Homo sapiens: one gene and its partner. The protein of the gene in region 1 interacts with the protein of each later gene in a biochemical or structural test. Each region holds a gene or a part of one and is shown on either strand. Other genes may lie near its edges.

Region 1 (3,624 bases):
AAATTTATTCCTTCCAGACTGTTCGTCTCCCTACTTGGCACACTCTCACCACCCCAGTCTTTGTTGTCCTTCAGGCCTCCACCCAAATGATGCTGCAAGGGGCCTCCCTGACCGCCCGGTCTAAACCAGCAAGGGCCATCACTCTCTTTCATAGTAGCACCCATCATTGTCTAAACACTCTGTGTTCACTTACTCCCTATAGTCTGTCATCTCCACTGGATGCACCCAAAGTTCCCTAAGGACAGGGATGTTGCCTTCCCAGCATCTAGAACACTGCCTGGTTCCAAGGAACATCCAAGGAAGTATTTACTGAAAGAAGTAAAAAGTGTGGGGAGAAGAGGAACCAGGATTTGAACCTATGTTGTTTGGGAGCCCAGGGCTCCAATGCATTAATTACATTGCCTTCTCAAGCGGCCAGGCCATGGCCTTGGAAGAATACAGCCCCAGCGGCAACCGTGCTTCCCCTGAGGAATAATGCCTGGAGGGAAACAGGAAGGAAACTTTTTAAAAACAGTATGTATTTCTATATTTATTTGAATTGTTGTCAGGTACGTGTACTGATTATAATTTACAAAATAATGCATGCAGGCCAGGCGCGGTGGCTCATGCCTGTAATCCTAGCACTTTGGGAGGCCGAGGGGGGGGGGGGTGGATCACCCGAGGTCAGGAGTTCGAGACCAGCCTGATCAATATGGTGAAATCCCCATCTCTACTAAATACAAAAAATTAGCTGGGCGTGGTGGCATGCACCTGTAATCCCAGCTACTCGGGAGGCTGAGGCAGGAGAATAGCTTGAATCCGGAAGGCAGAGGTTGCAGTGAGCAGAGATCGCACCACTGCACTCCAGCCTGGGCAACAAGAGCGAAACTCTGTCTCCAATAATAATAATAATAATAATAATAATAATACATGCAAAATTATGTGATTCTACCCCATCCAGGTCAAATATGTGATTCTGCCCCTTCTAGTTTAACACGCAGACGCATTACCTGCACACACCTTCCTCAGCTCCTAGATTTCTCCCTTCAGCTCACGATAGAGAACGTTATCACAGCCTCAAGCCATCTGCTATTACACAGAACCAAGCTAAGAGAAGGATTATTTGAAAAACATCAGGGCCAGGTGCAGTGGCTCACGCCTGTAATCCCAGCACTTTGGGAGGCCAAGGCGGGCAGATCACCTGAGGTCAAGAGTTTGAGACCAGCTTGGCTAACATGGTGAAACCCCGTTTCTACTAAAAATATTAAAAAATAGCTGTGTGTTATGGCACGCATCTGTAATCCCAGCTACTTGGGAAGCTGAGGCAGGAGAATCACTTGAACCCTGGAGTTGGAGGTTGCAGTGAGCCGAGATCGCGCCATTGCACTCCAGCTTGGGCAACAAAAGTGAAACTCGACCTCAAAAAAAAAAAAAAAAAAATCCTCTGAAGCAGTGCTTCTCCACCCAGTGAGACATCAAAATCACCCGGGAGCTTTCCAGAAATGCAGACCCCTGGTCCCTATCCCCAGGATCCTGATGGACTCGGTCCTGCATAGAAAATCCTGCAGGGCAATACGTGGCTACTGGTTGAAGTGACACCCCTTCAGCAATCTCTGCCTCTATTCTTGGACTACTTTAGGCTTGGACGGCCATGCCATCCACAGAATCACTACCCCTGGGTTGGTCTTTTGCATGAAACTCTCAACTTTAGTCAGGAGTGGCTACAAAAAATGCCCTTTTGCACTGTTTGGGATTTAACCACCATAACTCTTAGGGCCCTCTGCCTCAGCCTTACCCACTGGAGCACCTGAGAATCAGAGAAAGGAATAGTACCCCAGCAGGTGCCCCCAAAGGTTCATCTGTGCCAAACACATGAAGAAGGCAGAAGGCTGAGAGTCACCATTCTACATAGCAGGATCTCAGGAGCTTCAGTTAGGACTTAGGGCCAGGAAAATATGACTCCCTAAAAGAACTAAAATTATTTCTCCCTTATAATAAAGAAGTAGGTAATTGACAATTTCCTTTTTTGCCATGGCTATCAGGAAGCTCAGAGATCACATTTACCCTCACAGTTCATATACATTTCTCCAGTTTTCATCTTTGGCATTTAGATTCTTATTTTCCTACCCTCATTATTTACAAAGCTGCCTCAGATCTTTCCCATAGAGATAGGACATAAAGGCTGGGCGTAGTGGCTCATGCCTGTAATCTTAACACTGTGGGAGGCCAAGCTGGGCGGATCACCTGAGGTCAGGAGTTCGAGACCAGCCTGGCCAACAAAGCAAAACCCCATCTCTACTAAAAATACAAAAATTAGCCAGGAGTGGTGGCAGGCGCCTGTAATCCCAGCTATTCGAGAGGCTGAGGCAGGAGAACCGTGTGAACCCAGCAGGCAGAGGTTGCAGTGAGCCAAGATCGCACCACAGCACTCCAGCCTGAGCGAAAGAGCGAAACTCTGTCTCAAAAAAAAAAAAAAAAGGGTGGGGGGGGCGCATAAAGAAACCTAGCGTATATTCACACAGCAGTTCTTATCAGCAGAACTCTGTAAAGATCATTTCCAGGCCAGGCGCGGTGGCTCACGCCTGTAATCCCAGCACTTTGGGAGGCTGAGGCGGGTGGATAACAAGGTCAGGAGTTCAAGACCAGCCTGACCAACATGGTGAAACCCCATCTCTACTAAAAATACAAAATTAGCCAGGCATGGTGGCAGTAATCTGTAATCCCAGCTACTCAGGGGGCTGAGGCAGGAGAATCACTTGAACCAGGGTGGCAGAGATCACAGTGAGCCGAGATCGAGCCACTGCACTCCAGCCTGTGCGACAGAGCAAGACTCTGTCTCAAAAAAAAAAACAAAAAAACAAAAAAAATCATTTCCAGATCCTAGCTCTGTCCACAACTCCATGAACATGAATGAACGAAGTTTCCTCTCTATTTTCCTTTAAGGACTGTTGTGCTTCCCAACAGGACTGAGACAGCCCGGCAGGGATCAGAGCTGGACTAAGTCTGCAGGGCCCCAGACAAGTTCCAGCCTCCCCTTTCTGGCCTGTCATGACTTTGGACAGAGCTCCAGACCTTCCCAGGCTCAGTCTTCACCAACTCGGGTTCCTTGATTTGCCAGTTACCTCCCTGGCCCATTTTCCAGGCCACTAACCTCTCTGGCTTGGAGTGAAGAAGGATCTGACTCTGCTGCGCCCATCTCCCTCCACACCCAGGTCCCAAATAACCAGGCCACACACCAAGTTTCAAGTATCTGTCTCTTCCTTTCACTCTCTCAAAAGAAAAAAATAAATAAATTGCAGAAGGCGGCAGCATTTCCAGTCTTCCCTGGCTCCCGGACACCCGACCCCCGACCCCTGCCCCCCACCCTCCCTCCCGCATTTCCCACTCCCTAGACCCATCCCTCCCTTTTCCCCAAAAAAATTCCCAGGAAAAAAAAAAAAAAAAGCCACATTTAGACCTTCCACTCATGCAAACCGGCAAAGAAAAATGGTGGGGGCATGTGGAAGGCAGGGGCCCGCTGCGGAGTCCCCTGCTTCTCCCCCCAAAAAACCACCTTTGAGAAGAAAAAAAGTGGAAAAAATAAATGAGAAATCAAGGAACATGGGGAATTACGATGAGGGCAGGGGTGACCCCAGACCCTGCCTT
Region 2 (3,653 bases), on another chromosome or scaffold:
ACAGAGCGAAACTCCGTCTCAAAAAAAAATAAAAAAATAAAAATAAATAAAAATAAATAAAAAATAATTTTTTCAGAAGCATTTCCACTGATTAATTTTTAATAACATTACTTCCCCTTCCAAATAATGGAAAACACTGATACGCCACTGCATTATTTATCCAACCAATACTTTCTATTTGCAATTCCACAAACATATTAGTTTAGCTATTATTACGGTGATTCCATGTGATTAAAAATATTTATATTTATGGCATTAGAAATAAACATAAATTTATCTTTCAAAGATCAATTCTTTATCTCCTCAAAAGTTTTCTTTACATGCCATGATTATTCTGAAATGAACATTTTAGAGTATATATATATATATTTCTGTAGTTTGTATCATTTAAATTATGATCATCAAATACCCAAGTCCCTGAATGTAGTACAAAACATTGCTTATCAATTAGCAGGCTATTAGTCCTTTGAAATCAAGAACACTTTGCTTCTTGAGAACACTGCAGTATTTCTAGAAAAAAATCACTGAGAGGCTGGGCCTAAAAAATAGACATTATATATATTTTCCCCCCAAGACATAAAGTCTAATTTTACCTGCATTGTCAGAGAAACAGACTGTTTAAACCAGAGGAAATGAGTCCTCTTAGGGTTAAATATGGAGACAATAATTTATATGCTGGCTTCCTTCCTCCAGTCTCCTCTCTACTCTCTTACAAGCAGAGATTTCTACATAGCTGTTCTATACACACGGGGGAATATGGAAGTCCTCAGAACTATTTATTTTCTAAGATTTCCTTGGGAGGTAGAATTTCATAAATGATTCCTACATCATTTTGCTGCATACTTTTCAGAGGCATTTCAGAAAATATCTAAGTCAAGCACACTTCTTGGATAGATGAATGAAAAAGAGGTGGTTTCTCCACTAAGAATTTCTTTGAGCTCAAAAATCAAGTTCAATATAAATTCTCCAGGCAAAATTATTCAATCACAAAAATCTCAAAAAGGCTTAAATTTTCTTAGAAGACATAAAAAAGATACTAATTTTACTATGTAAGAATGTTAAACAGTTTTGTAAATTAAAACCAAAATGAAATAAAAAGAAGTGACAAAATGGAAAAAATACTTGAGAAGCATATTACGAGGTGCTAGCTTATCTCTAGTAAAAAAAAGCTTTCACGAATTATAAAAATAGACAAAAGAACTTGTAGTTTCACAAAATGAAATAAAGTCGTTGATGAACAGATTAAATCTTCAACCTCAGTCATAACTCAATAAAAGCCCTTAAAAACAATGAGGTACAGCTTTTTACCTATCAGATTGGCAAAGATGAAAAACTTGGAATATGCAGCACTAGTGCAGTGTAGACAAGGTATAGACAAACAGGCACTCAAACTACTGGCAGAAATATAAATCCGTGTGTAACCTTCTTAGAAGGCAATTCTACGTAATATCTCTCAAAGTAAAAATACACATATATTTTGATGCAGCAATTCTACTGGATCCCAGTTACCCTAGTACTTATGTGAAATATGCAGGGAGAACAATGTATGTACTACATCATCTCTAACAGCTAAACATAACAAACAACCTAACTGTCCATTAGGAGGAAAATGCAAATAAATTATGATATATCTATAAAAAATGGGTCCCATGCATCTATTAAGAATGAGGTAGAGCTCTTAAGACATAGTTAGTGAAAAGAACAAAGTATAGAAGATCTATATGATAGAATTCCATCAATAGAAAACACAATGTGTGTGCAGATTTGCATGGATTGCATATATTTGTAAATGCAAAGAAACATTCTGAAAGCCACATCAACTGTGATGGGACTGGGTGAGGGTAAAAGGCTTTCACTTATTTCAATATTTTCCCATATAGTTTTAATTTTTACCATTCTGTATATGTTACTTTTAAAATATAATTTAAAACACTAAAGTTAAATTGCATTTTATTTAAAATAACCAAATCTTTACACCATGTAGGAAACCCTCCACGAAAAACCCTGAAGTTGGAACAGCTGTATTAGGGACCCGGTGTCTTTCTGCTTTAATAGGAGTGGCATGTAAAAGTGATTCATAAGCGCTTTGTGCATTTACCGTTAAAATGCCAAAATCAAGTAGGGGATAAAATTCATAGTCTAGTCTATATTACCAAAGCATTTCTAAAGAAAAAATTTAAACATTTAAACAGATATTCTGATACCACCTTTTAACATAACTTTAGGGTATGTTTAGGGGTAGGCCTGGCTGGTAAAAAATATTTCATTAAAAAAAATTAGTCAACTGCTTAGAATTGCAACTAATACTTATGAAATGCAAAAAAAGCACATTTTAAACCCTAATATTTAGTGGGAAAATATTACAAAAGAGTTATATCCATTGCAAAAGGATTCTATTGATATAAATGTATATAATTTCATGTATTAAGAATTACAGAACCTGAAAGACAAGTTAACCTTAAGTTTATAGTTTAAAATCTGAGATTAAAAACACGAATGAGCCTTTTCCACCTTTTCATTCTTTGTTTCAACTTAAGTTACACAGAAGATTTCCTCACTGGGTTTTATGTAGCACTGTCACCTTGTACGCACCTGTCAGGCTGTCTGGCCTGGGTGGAACCATCCTCTCATAAATGTCATACTGCTGCTGTCCGAATTGCTCCATGTCATGAACAGTCCTTTGCAGTGAAGGTCCCAGATGCTGTGGTACGGCGGTCATCCCTGAGCGTTTGGGGGACGACGACCCCACCTGGCCTTGGGATGGGGAAGCTACTCGAGTCTGTGCATCCGTCAGGGTCAGTGGGGACCCCACTCTGGCGGTGGTTTGGTATTGAGGGGTTGGTCCGTTGGGATTGGAGGTCTGCCGGGAGGTGACTGACCCAATCCGCCGTATAGCTGTTGGGGAGGCGGGTCTCTGTGAGTACGGAGAGGCTGCCCGTGCAGCAGGTAATGTGGTGGAGGAATATGCACTGGGGTTCAGAGGTCGGGGGTCGGTCACTGACGGAGAGCCAAATCCACTACCCAGAGAAGTTCTCAGAGACCCCCTTGAAGGAGACACGCCTGTGCTGATAACATAAGAAGGAGACTGTGCTCTAGATGGAACTGAACTAACTCTTCTCATGGCCCGATTGGCTACTGATGGCTGATGAAAGGGGGGGAAAAAAGAGAATGGGTTTATCCAGGGTTTTGTGTTCATTGCCATTACAAAAGAAATACACATAGCTCACTACAGAATGTGAATCCACTATTTTAGGCATCTAAGATTCTTTTCCTTTTTATGCTTTGAGCCAGACATTAATTTTTCCTCACGGTGCTTTAGTTGTTTTAGTTTTTTTTTTTTTTTTTGGTGGTTTAAACCAAATGCTAAAATTAACCTGTAAAAAGAGATCTGAAGACATTTAATACTCCTTTTTTATCTTTACATTTTTAACTATTGCCTATGCATTTTTCACAGCACATAAAATGTTTTATTCTAAGTGTTACATGTAATTCATGAGCGTGAAGGGGCACCAGAACAATGTACTTACTTCATTCCCTATGAAGCAAAGTTTGGCCAAGGCAATGCATTTATGTAAAACAAAAATTTGAATATAATTTGAATATATCAGTCTAAATGTAGCTAGTGGAATATTTATCATTGTTTTTCTTTATGG

Evidence for each region. Proteins that work in one complex are often made in the same cells at the same time.
Region 2: the proteins of DLG4 (region 1) and PKP4 interact in a test that uses a peptide from one of them, tested with the Homo sapiens proteins (2 studies listed by IntAct, with this or other methods).

The regions. Positions count from the first base shown.
Region 1 is NC_000017.11:7,186,671-7,190,294, forward strand, and holds the end of DLG4 (disks large homolog 4), read right to left. Parts: 3' UTR 517-3,624; downstream 1-516. UniProt on the Homo sapiens protein: Postsynaptic scaffolding protein that plays a critical role in synaptogenesis and synaptic plasticity by providing a platform for the postsynaptic clustering of crucial synaptic proteins.
Region 2 is NC_000002.12:158,624,367-158,628,019, reverse strand, and holds part of PKP4 (plakophilin-4), read right to left. Parts: intron 3,143-3,653; coding exon 2,593-3,142; intron 1-2,592. UniProt on the Homo sapiens protein: Plays a role as a regulator of Rho activity during cytokinesis. May play a role in junctional plaques.